Linked DNA regions of Homo sapiens: regions 1, 3 and 4 are each linked to region 2. Evidence: fine-mapped expression QTL. A gene starts in region 2. Each other region holds a variant in brackets. All regions are shown on one strand. Distances are between the middles of the regions.

Region 1 (2,686 bases), 29 kb after region 2:
TCAGCTCTAAACCCTAGCTTTCCCCTAACTGCCCCAAGCCTAGTTTGTAGTAGGCTGAGTGGCAACCTAGCCCAAAGTGGGATTATGATACTCCAACTTAGTTGTGGTTGAGTTTTATGTAAACATTTTTGTCGCTATTTCATCTGGCTTTTCTAGATAAAATGTCTAGGAGAAGGTAGGGAGTGACCAGAATAAAGGTGAAATTCTTGGTGCTGAATGAGATACACTAATTTTGTGGATGTAGTTGGGGAGGGATAGCTACCCGAAACCCGCAGAGTAAACAACTGAGACCTCAGGAGATATGGAGAATGGAAGGGCATTAATAACTTTTTGTCTTTCTGAATCACCCTTAGTGAGGGCCAAAGAAAAATCTGGAAATCATGTTGGGAAAGGACAGGGTTAGTATTGGAGCAGATGGTAGGGCAGATGCTGTGGGTTCATATCCTTTTGGTCTCTCCACATCACCCTTCACGGTCCTTTGGGATTGTTCTATCTCTCTCTGTGATGTGGATGTGGAGTTTTATTGAGCATGCATGCTTACTGCCTAGCTGTCTGAGGCTACGGGGGTAGATGATGGAGAACTGTTACTTTTTTTTCTGAGAGACTTAGTATCTCATGGCTGAGCTTAAGCTGGATCTATGGAGCACTGATCCCATTGTCTACTTCTGTGAGCTAGTGCTCCTCCATCTAGTTTCTACCATCTAGAGACGAATCTTATCAATACTTGGGTAAACCAAAGACATAAGTCAGGTAAGGGAATCCTAGACATAGCCCGACTCTTGCCTTTTTCCTCTTCTCACTTTAAATCTTGTTGGCTCAGAGAGTTACCCTCAGATGGAGTCTCTCAGGAGTAATTAGAACATTGTACTTCTAGAGAAGCTGGTGGAACAGGGTAGGGTTCCCAGTTCAAAGCTTCTGTCAAAAACTTCCAGTCTGTGTGTAGTAAATAAATCTAGAAACGATCCTAGAGCTCTGGATGGATCATTAAGAGAGGGCAGGATTTCTGTAGATCAGAATACCAGGACACATGTTCATCCGTCACCTTCCGGGGTCAAATTCTCGGTTAAGCCTGTGTGGTAGGGCTGTAGAGCAGTGTGTGCCTGGGAAAGCCTCTGATCACACATTTCCTCAGGGATTTTTTAGGCCTGATGTCCCTTTGAATTTACTTTAACAATCCTTTTGTAATTTTATTTTTTACATCAATTGTAACTTAGTATTATTATATATATAGGCATTTGGGTGTGTCTTGAAGGCATGTCCTGGTTTCAAACTGATTTGTGGTATATTATTGAATTAGGCCCATTTACTGGAATTATAAACTGCTATCCAACTACACAAAGAGCTGAGGATTCTGGGGAGGTCAGGATGGAGATGAAATAGAAGTGAGGAGAAAATAGCTCTCTCTCTCACATGCAGATTCTTTATGGATAAAATGCATAATTACCTAAAATTTAAAATACTCAAAAAATTATCTAATCAGTATGTAATGGAAATTATAGAGCAAAGAACAAAACA[AACAC/C]CAAAATAATTTTCTTTTTTCTACATAAAAATTAAATAATTTACATAATGAAATATTCCATGATCCCAGTGTAAAATGCCAATAGAATATATGTAAAAAAAAAAAAAGACAATACCTGTATTAGATTTAAAATCTTCTACAATACATAAGATGAATTGAAATTTTTAGAGTAGAAGAAAGTTTAAAATTAGGTAAATGATATGAGCCAGGTGAAGAATAGGATCATTAAGCATTTAATATACCTTGTCTTAGATTCTGTGTAAGAAAATGAAAAGTAAAAACAATGGCATGGTGATTTCATCAAACTGAAAAAATAGAAGCATTTCTCCAGAGAGAATGCTATTAAAGGTTGGTGAATATCAATCTTCTGAGGACTCGGCCTGGGAGAGTGAAGAGCTACAGCCTTTTCTGAGTTCAAGTGGGGAAGATATAAATATATATTCATTTTGCTACTCTTTTTAATATACAAACATATATGAATGATTACACCCTAATAATATTTTCTGATTTACAGAAATGCATGACTGTCATAAGACAGCCAAAAGACATCAGATGTCTTATATGAAATACAAAATTTGTCAGTAATCAGCCTTAAAGAAAACTGGGTTTACCATTTTCAGTATATTGTTCAAATTCCTTTTCTACAACCACCACAGGTTCTGTTATTAACATGGTGTGTCTAAAGTTGTCACTGCTGGTCATCCAGAAGAATCTGAGAAGCAGCAAGTCTTTGTTTTCACTCCCAGACCTGTTTTCTTTGCTGAATAGGGTCAGGAGACCCCCAGGTCAAGCTTCATCTCATCTATAGATAGGCTGAGTTACCTTTGGTCCAAAAAAGGGCTGGTCCTATCTTTCTCCCAGAAGGAGCTCTGGACTTCTCCAGCCAGGGCTGGACCCTGGCACAAGTCAGGGTGGCTGAGATTCCCAGCCCTCAGCAGGGAACCCAGGCCACCTGGGAGTCCATGGTGTAGAAGTTCTGCACTGCAGCACAGAGGCCCCCAGAGCTGGCAAGCTAAGAGAGCTGCTCCCAGGTCAGCAGAGAATGGACCTACTGTGCTTGTGTCTGAACTAGGTCTTGATAAATGGCCTCAGACTTACCATAGAGGTCACCAGGCTTTTCAGAACTGGCAGCAGGTGGTCTCCTGGGGACTGAGATATGGGCTGCTT
Region 2 (2,686 bases):
CAGAAAACCACAGCCTGACCATTAGGGCCAAAGCCAAATTGCAAAATGAGAAGTTTGTCTTTAATGTATTCCCTCTACATCTAAAGTCCTGAGGTTAAGGCTGTGGACAAATCTGAAGACATGGGTTTTCTTCTCCTGGGGCCCCTCATCTTTTTTTCACTGTCTTATCTATAGAAGAGGCTGGGCCCCTGGCAAGAGCAGGTGGGAAATAGTAGACTCCCTCTAGATACTTCTTTATTGCAGCCCACTTCTCTCTCTGGGCACTGTCTCTGCCACCCTTGGGCCTGAGGAGAGATGTTAGCAGAAGGAGGGCATTCCCTCACCTCTAGCAGAAAAGAGGGGTTCGGGCCCTTCACTCCCTGAGGTCAGGGGAACCAGAGCCCTCAAAACTGCACTTCAGTGTGACAGTCATTGCCCACAGGGGTCTACTTAGCACCTAGAATGTGGCTGGTCTGAATCGGTACATGCTGGAAGTTTAAAACGCAGAGTGACTTTGAAAGATTTAGTACCAAAAAACAGAACAACAAAAAATACTTCATTAATATTATATTTATCATATATTTAAATTATAATATTTTGTATATATTGAGTTAAATAAAGTATTGCAATCAATTTTACCTGTTTATTCCTCGTTTCTGTTGCTACTAGAAATTTTAAAATGACACCTGTGGCTCACATGTGATTTCTGTGGAAATCGCAGCCTTGGAGGATTGCTTCCCTTTTCAAAACTCGGGCTCCTCAGACTGCTTCCTCAGAAGACCAGAGGCCATGAAGGTTAATAAGTCTGAAATTTTAAAAGAATTATTATTATATTGTTTCCTATTTTAAATATCATATATATTATTCACAAATGAATGTAACATTGTATACAAGGTTAAGTGTATATAAATGAATGTCCCCTAGGCAAGGCTGGGTCCCAACCCAGAGAGGAAACCCTCTTGGAGAAGAGCTGTAGCCAGAACGCTGCCTCATTCAGACACGCGCGGGAGCTGTCACCTGTCACTAAGAGTCTGAGGGGGCGGGGCCTGAGGCCCTACCCAATCAGGGGCACCGGGGCGGGGACTGCCTAATCCGGCGCTCCGCTAGAAAACCCGAGGCGGCTTCCGGGTGTGCCCGGCCTTTGTCTCTCGTGCCCGCACGTGCGTGTCTCGGTCAGTAGCCCTGCGCTTCTCCTTCACTCTCGGCGGTTCAGGAGGCTCTGCCGCAGCCGGGGCCCTCCTGTGACCTGCATGTACTGGGGGATTCGCAGGGAGGATGTCGGGACACCCCGGAAGCTGGGAAATGGTGAGTTGCGCCGCCGGGGGTCTGGAGAAGGGAAGGGGCTGTGGCGGCCCCGGGCCCCGGGCTCCCAGCGGTCGGCTCCCGAGGGCGGACCCGGGTCCCTGCTGGCGCGGCGCGGCGCGGCCCTCGGTCCTTTCTGGCGCCCGGCAGAGCTGGGCGGGCAGCGGCACCCCGGGCTCCGGTCCCGTCTCTGCACCGCGACTTCCGTCCTGCCCGAAGCAGCTTCCCTCCCCGGCCCGCGCCCGCAGCCCCGCGGCTCCTCGGGATCCTGCAGTGAGACCCGAGGCGCCTCAGGGGAGAGGCCCAGCGCGGTGTGCGGGCTCGCGCCTGCGAGGAGCTGTGGCCACTGGCGTTTCCAGTCCCTCCTTAATCCTGTTAAAAATTAAACTGAGGTTTAATTAAAGCGTTACAGAGTTTGAGCAAACAGCGATTCATGAGTAGGGGAGCACCCAGCCACGGTTTTTGGTTTGTGGGCCACCGGACGGTCTTGATGGAAAGGCTTCTGTAAAGTGTGTAAGGAAACAAACCAAATTTATTTATTTTTTATTTTAATGATCGGGTGGGGCGGGGGGGGGGTCTCCCTGTGTTGCCCAGGCTGGTCTTGAACTTCTGGTCTCAACCTCCCGAAGTGCTGGGATTACCCCGCCCAGCCCAAAGCAACCCCAATTTAATAACTGATTGGTTATAATTATGTAGTTCTGTTATTCGGATTATTTAGGTGGATGGTTCCTGGTTATGTAATCAGAGGTAAATTGCTGATTTGGGGTTAAGTTTTCTTTCCCTTCAAGTTAATTACAAGAAAGGCATGAAGTACCTTTAGGTTTTCTTGGTGAGGAACTCAGGGCACCATCATCACTTAAGGGAGGAGACCACCCCTCATATTGTCTTATGCCCAATTTCTGCCTCCAAAGAAAGAAGAAGTAAAAACTAAAAGGCAGAAATGAAATCCACAGGCAGACAGCCCGGCGCCGCGTCCTGGGCCTGGTTACAGATTGACCCTTGACCTGACCGGTTGTGTTATCTATAGATTCCAGACATTGTATGGAAAAGCACTGTGAAAATCCCTGTCCTGTTCTGTTCCGTTCTGATTGCCGGTGCATGCAGCCCCCAGTTATGTACCCCCTGCTTGGTCAATCGATCACGACCCTCTCACGTGGACCCCCTTAGAGTTGTAAGCCCTTAAAAGGGACAGGAATTGCTCACTTGGGGAGCTGGGTTTTTGGAGACGTGAGTCTTGCCAAAGCTTCCGGCAGAATGAAGCCCTTCCTTCTTTAACTCGGTGTCTGAGGGGTTTTGTCTGCAGCTTGCCCTGCTACAACTTCAGTCTAATTTCTTCCTATTTAATTATTTCCACAAGGGTACTGGTTTCCCCTGCATTTCCCAAATGTAAGGCAAGCAGGGTCTC
Region 3 (2,686 bases), 190 kb after region 2:
TAGCCTTTTTGTCAGAACTCATGATAGTACAGGTAGCAGCAGCCACTCCCAATCATGTCTCCTGTGTTCTGCTACAGAGAAATGTTTCTGCTTACATTGGTGGCCGAGTGATAGTGTTCTGCTCCATGAGATTTAGAGAGAAGTGCCTGAACAGGTTGGCCTTCTCTGAATTAAAAAACACTGGTTTTTAATAACATTCCCTGTCCTATTAGCTTCACATTTTTCTCCTTGTTGCTGTTTGGAATGTGATTCAATTGCCTGGAGGTGGATCAGCCGACTTGGGTTCTGAAGGAGTGAGCTTGAGCACAATGACCAGGTGTAGACCATTTCAGAGACAGGAAATGGAAAGAAACTGGCACACTATAAGGTCACTGCACTATTAGTTCTGCTGCCCAAGTACGTAAGAGTACACCTCATATGTTCTGATACTATACAAAAGTCTTTTCTTTGTAGCTGAACGCAAACTAATTGCTACAGAATGAGATGTATGAAAGTTTTTAGAATCAAAATGAAATCACCAATGTCATAAAAACTCTGACAAATAGAGATGCTGGAAGAGAGTGTTATTAAGCTTATACACCTGATAACAAAGCTATCCTAAAAGACTTTTAAAAACTTTATCCTTTTGCCGGGTGTGGTGGCTCATGCCTGTAATTCCAGCACTTTTGGAGGCTGAGGCGGGTGGATCACGAAGTCAGGCTTTCGAAACCTGGCCAACATGGCAAAACCCCGCCTCTACTAAAAACAACAAAAATTAGCCAGGTATGGTGGCGGGCACCCGTAGTCTCAGCTACTCAGGAGGCTGAAGCAGGAGAATCGCTTGAACCCAGGAGGCAGAGGTTGCAGTGAGCCAAGATCACACCACTGCACTCCAGCCTGGGCGACAGACCGACTCTGTCTCAAAAACAACAACAAAAAATGTATCCTTTCATAAAGGCCTTCACAACCTTGTACAAAACATTTCTATTGAGCCATTAAAATACCAGTGGGCACTGATGAGTAGATTTATTTTGGCACATATGAAAGTTTTTGTTAGCTGGCACAACGCTCTTACATTTATATCTGGGGCTTGAGGGAACATAAAAAATGCTCATAAACTTTGCGAATGGCAGGGAACTGGGAATGATAGAAAATATGTGCGTAACTGATCTGAGGTTGACTTTGTAAGTATTGTTGTAGTTTGGATATGTGTCCCTGCCCAAATCTCATGTTGAATTGTAAATTTATAATGTCTAAAGTTTAAAAAGTAGCTGCTTCTCATTCTGGTTTTCTGAACTTTATAGAGGCAAATAAATTTTCAGTCTGATTTGGGGGTCTCTTATTTGGCTTTGCATTTTCTCTTCAGGATAAATTCAGTGTTATTTATTTATTTATTTATTTATTTGAGACGGAGTTTCGCTCTGTCGCCCAGGCTGGAGTGCAG[T/G]GGCGCGATCTCAGCACACTGCAAGCTCTGCCTCCCGGGTTCATGCCATTCTTCTGCCTCAGCCTCCCGAGTAGCTGGGACTACAGGTGCCCGCCACCATGCCTGGCTAATTTTTTGTATTTTTAGTAGAGACGGGGTTTCACCGTGTTAGCCAGGATGGTCTCGATCTCCTCACCTCGTGATCTGCCCGCCTTGGCCTCCCAAAGTGCTGGGATTACAGGTGTGAGCCACCGCGCCCGGCCAGTGTAATTTACTCCTTTTGTCATGTGTTGTTTATTTACAGCAAATGTTGCCTACTACAACATTCCCACTGAAATAGAATGTCTTATGTCTTTGAATGCCTCAAAAGGATTTAAAGAAATAATAACTGATCCTTGAGCACATATACCTACAGGGATATAGCAATCATTGAGCTAAATAATTAGCTAATTAAAAAATTGTTTTGCAAATGTAGAAATGACTATTTCATTCTTGTTGTGGTGCTTCTGTAACCTTGTGTTCTGTCCCCCATGTGGACAGTGTGCCACATCTAGTTTCTGCATAGATTTCAAGAGAGACATAAGGACAAGTTTTTTATGTGTGAGGATGCAGCTTAGGGCAGCAACATTGCACACCAATTATAAACCAATAAAGTTCTTGTCCCTGCCTCTCCCTCAGCGTCTCCCTCACCAGCCAGTATCAGCAGATGGTCTATCTCATTCTTCATGGGAAAACAGAAACTGTTCATCTTATGCTTGGGAAGCCTCTCTCTCTTAACCTTGAGATTTCCCTTCAGAGATGGTCGTTTCCTCCTTCCCTCCTGCCTAATAGAATAAGTTATTCTCTTCGCCTAATAGAATAAGTTGTTCTCTTCGCCTAATAGAATAAGTTGTTCTCTTCTCTTTTACCTCTTTTGAGACTTAGCCTCTTTAAAGATTCCCTTTTGTTTTAGTTGTCTTCGATTTTTCTTTCACTTGGCTTAATTCCCTCAGAGACATAATTTAAATCATTTTCTTGATACTGTCTCCTGCTCAGTTTACACCTTAGCTTACTCCTTACTGTCAATGAAAATCTTGGGAGGGTTGTATATGCTTCCTAGCTCCTCTGCCTCATGATTACTCCTCAGCCCTCAGCATTTGCATGCCAAACTCTGAACTTTCATGTTCTCAGCATGTTAGTAAAACTGTTCTTGTTTCATTTTACTTAAGTTCGAAGCACTGTATTATTGCTCCCACAGCCCTCAGTCCAAAACTTCAGTGCATTGTAATTGTTAAAATCTTCATC
Region 4 (2,686 bases), 300 kb after region 2:
CACCCTGTCCTTTGAAGCCAGGCATTGACTTCTCCATTCATGTGTTCACTGACGTAGCACTTTTAATTTCCTTCAGGTTCTTTTTTGCATTTACAACTTGGCTAACTGGCATAAGAGGTCTAGCTTTTGATTTAAAGTCCTAGACATGTGACTCCTCCTTTCACATGAACACTTGAGGTCTTTGTAGGGTTATTAGTTGGCTTTGGATATTGTCAGTCTCAAGGAATAAGGGAGGTCCTCGGGGAAAGGGAGAGACGCGGGGGAACAGTTAGTCAGTGGAGTAAGTACACGCTGTTGGAAAAATGGTGCCAGTAGACTTGCTGGACACAGGGTTGCCACAGACCTTCAATTTGTTTAAAAAAACAAAACACACGGCCGGGCGTGGTGGCTCACGCCTGTAATCCAGCACTTTGGGAGGCCAAGGCGGGCGGATCACGAGGTCAGGAGATCGAGACCATCCTGGCCAACATGGTGAAACCCCGTCTCTACTAAAAATAGAAAAAGTTAGCCAGGCATGGTGGCGGGCGCCTGTAGTCCCAGCTACTCAGCAGGCTGAGGCAGGAGAATGGCGTGAACCCGGGAGGCAGAACTTGCAGTGAGCCGAGATCACACCACTGCACTCCAACCTGGGTGACAGAGCGAGACTCCATCTCAAAAAAAAAAAAAAAACAAAAAACACACACACAATGAAGCAAAGCACAATAAAATGAGGTAGACCTGTACTCATTCATCACGTGGTACTTTTTTATTGGCTGCTCTGTAACCCAAGAAATGTAAGCCTTTCTTAGAAGATTTGACTGTTTATTTACTAGTGTATGCATAATGAAAGAACTCCTATTTCAGTTGAAGGCACATGTCCAACTTCTAGAAAACACAAAGAATAACTTTTTTTTTTTTTTTTTTTACCACTTACCAAAAGCCCAACTTCCTAAATCCAGCATAGCTATAATGAAACAAAATGTAGGCCAGGCCGGTGGCTCACACCTCTATCCCAGCACTTTGAGAGGCCGAGGAGGGAGGATCACTTGAGGCCCGGAGTTTGAGACCAGTCTGGCCAACATGGTGAAACCCTGTCTCTACTAAAAATACAAAAATTGCCAGGCGCAGTGGCTCACGCCTGTAATCCCAGCACTTTGGGAGGCCAAGGCGGGTGGATCACATGAGGTCAGGAGTTCAAGACCAGCCTGGCCAACATGGTGAAACCCTTTACTTTAGAATACAAAAATTAGCGTGGTGGCACATTCCTGTAGTCCCAGCTACTCGGGAGGCTAAGGCAGGAAAATCACTTGAGTCTGGCAGGCAGAGGTTGCAGTGAGCCAAGATTGTGCCACTGCACTCCAGCCTGGGCTACAGAGCAAGACTCCGTCTCAAAAAAAAAAAAAAAAAATTAGCCGGGCTTGGTGGCCATGCCTGTAATCCCATCTACTTGGGAGGCTGAGGCAGGAGAATCGCTTGAACCCAGGAGGCAGAGGGTGCAGTGAGCCGAGATCATGCCACTGCCCTCCAGCTTGAGTGACACAGCAAGACTGGTCTAAAAGAAAAAAAATTAATTATATATATATAATTAAAATTTTTAGCTAGTATTACCACGTAATGTGTGTGTGTGTGTGTG[TGG/G]GGGGGGGGGTGTAATCATTCTTTCATATGCTTTTATTAAATTCCCGTTTGTTAGAGATGCACTTAATTCCAGCGTTCTTCATTTTACAGTTTCTAGACCCAAACCATTATCAGCAGTTCCAAAGCAAGTTGTAACAGGAACTGTGTTGACAAGATCTGTTTTCATCAACAATGTGTTATCTAAAATTGGAGAAGTTTGGGCAAGCAAAGAACCTATAAATAGCACCACACCTTTCAATAGGTATGTTTTCTTACACGTTTCATAGTCATGCTGCTTGTTAATCTTTACTGGACATCAACAGCGTTCATCAACAATCCACTCTCTTTGCCTAAGTTTATTAGTGTATGTAAAAAAGAAAAACTCTTTATGTTGGCTATGTTTCTGAGAAGAATTTTTAAAAACCTTTAAAAGTGAAATGTTCATTATTATTTGTAAGCAATGCAGAACTGTACAAAGTAAAACGAATGAAAACCCTCTGTTCTCCCATCTCATCCACTTGTTATCAGTGCTCCTTGTGATACATCAGAAGTTAAATTTTTATTTTCATAGTTCTAAAATAGAAGAACCATCTCCTATAGTGTATTCGCTCCCAGCTCCAGAGCTGCCTGAGGCATTTTTTGGAACACCAATTTCAAAAGCATCACAAAAAATTTCTAGGTAAGAGTTTATTAAATCATTCTTAGAGACACAATGTTAGATGATAGTTACAATTGTAATTTTTAATTATCTTTAACATTTTATAGACTTTTAAATTATTAAATGAATATTTTAATGTTTGCTTTTTATTATACTTTGGGCAGCAGTAATTTTAGGAAATTTTACATCAGGTAGTAGTATACTTAAAATTTTTGTTCAATAATTTCAGACTGCTTAGTGGACAGGAGTGAAGTTTGTCTCATGAGCAAACTATTAACTTACTTTCCTTGTTACCTGCTTGTTAGTAGACCTCTAAATGAGGGTTGTTTTTATACTTAATTACAGATTAATCTTGGGTAGCTCATTGAAGCTTTCTTCTGTTGAACAGTGCCTACTAAAATGTCTTGTGTTGCTTCAGATGCAGCACGTTTACAT

What was found. PIP is the estimated chance that this variant, and not a neighbour inherited with it, causes the effect.
Region 1: its variant is fine-mapped to the expression of ZNF124 in blood mononuclear cells (TOPMed, PIP 0.90).
Region 3: its variant is fine-mapped to the expression of ZNF124 in visceral fat (GTEx, PIP above 0.99). The same link has a PIP of 0.9 or more in breast and skeletal muscle.
Region 4: its variant is fine-mapped to the expression of ZNF124 in skeletal muscle (FUSION, PIP 0.92).

What each region holds. Positions count from the first base shown.
Region 1 is chr1:247,141,782-247,144,467 of GRCh38, reverse strand. It overlaps a transcript of ZNF124 not described here. Among named protein-coding and RNA genes, the nearest start is that of ZNF124, 29 kb to the left of the region's middle. The variant AACAC/C (reference allele first, on the strand shown) is at 1,516.
Region 2 is chr1:247,170,446-247,173,131 of GRCh38, reverse strand. ZNF124 (zinc finger protein 124) reads left to right here and starts at 1,112. Exons shown (of 4, transcript NM_001297568.2): 1 at 1,112-1,284. The coding sequence starts at 1,255.
Region 3 is chr1:246,975,492-246,978,177 of GRCh38, reverse strand. The region is part of intron 5 of ZNF670-ZNF695 (ZNF670-ZNF695 readthrough (NMD candidate)); the gene reads left to right. It also overlaps a transcript of ZNF695 not described here. Among named protein-coding and RNA genes, the nearest start is that of ZNF695, 31 kb to the left of the region's middle. The variant T/G (reference allele first, on the strand shown) is at 1,424.
Region 4 is chr1:246,866,830-246,869,515 of GRCh38, reverse strand. AHCTF1 (AT-hook containing transcription factor 1) reads left to right here. Exons shown (of 36, transcript NM_001323342.2): 25 at 1,705-1,855; 26 at 2,165-2,272. Among named protein-coding and RNA genes, the nearest start is that of AHCTF1, 64 kb to the left of the region's middle. The variant TGG/G (reference allele first, on the strand shown) is at 1,613.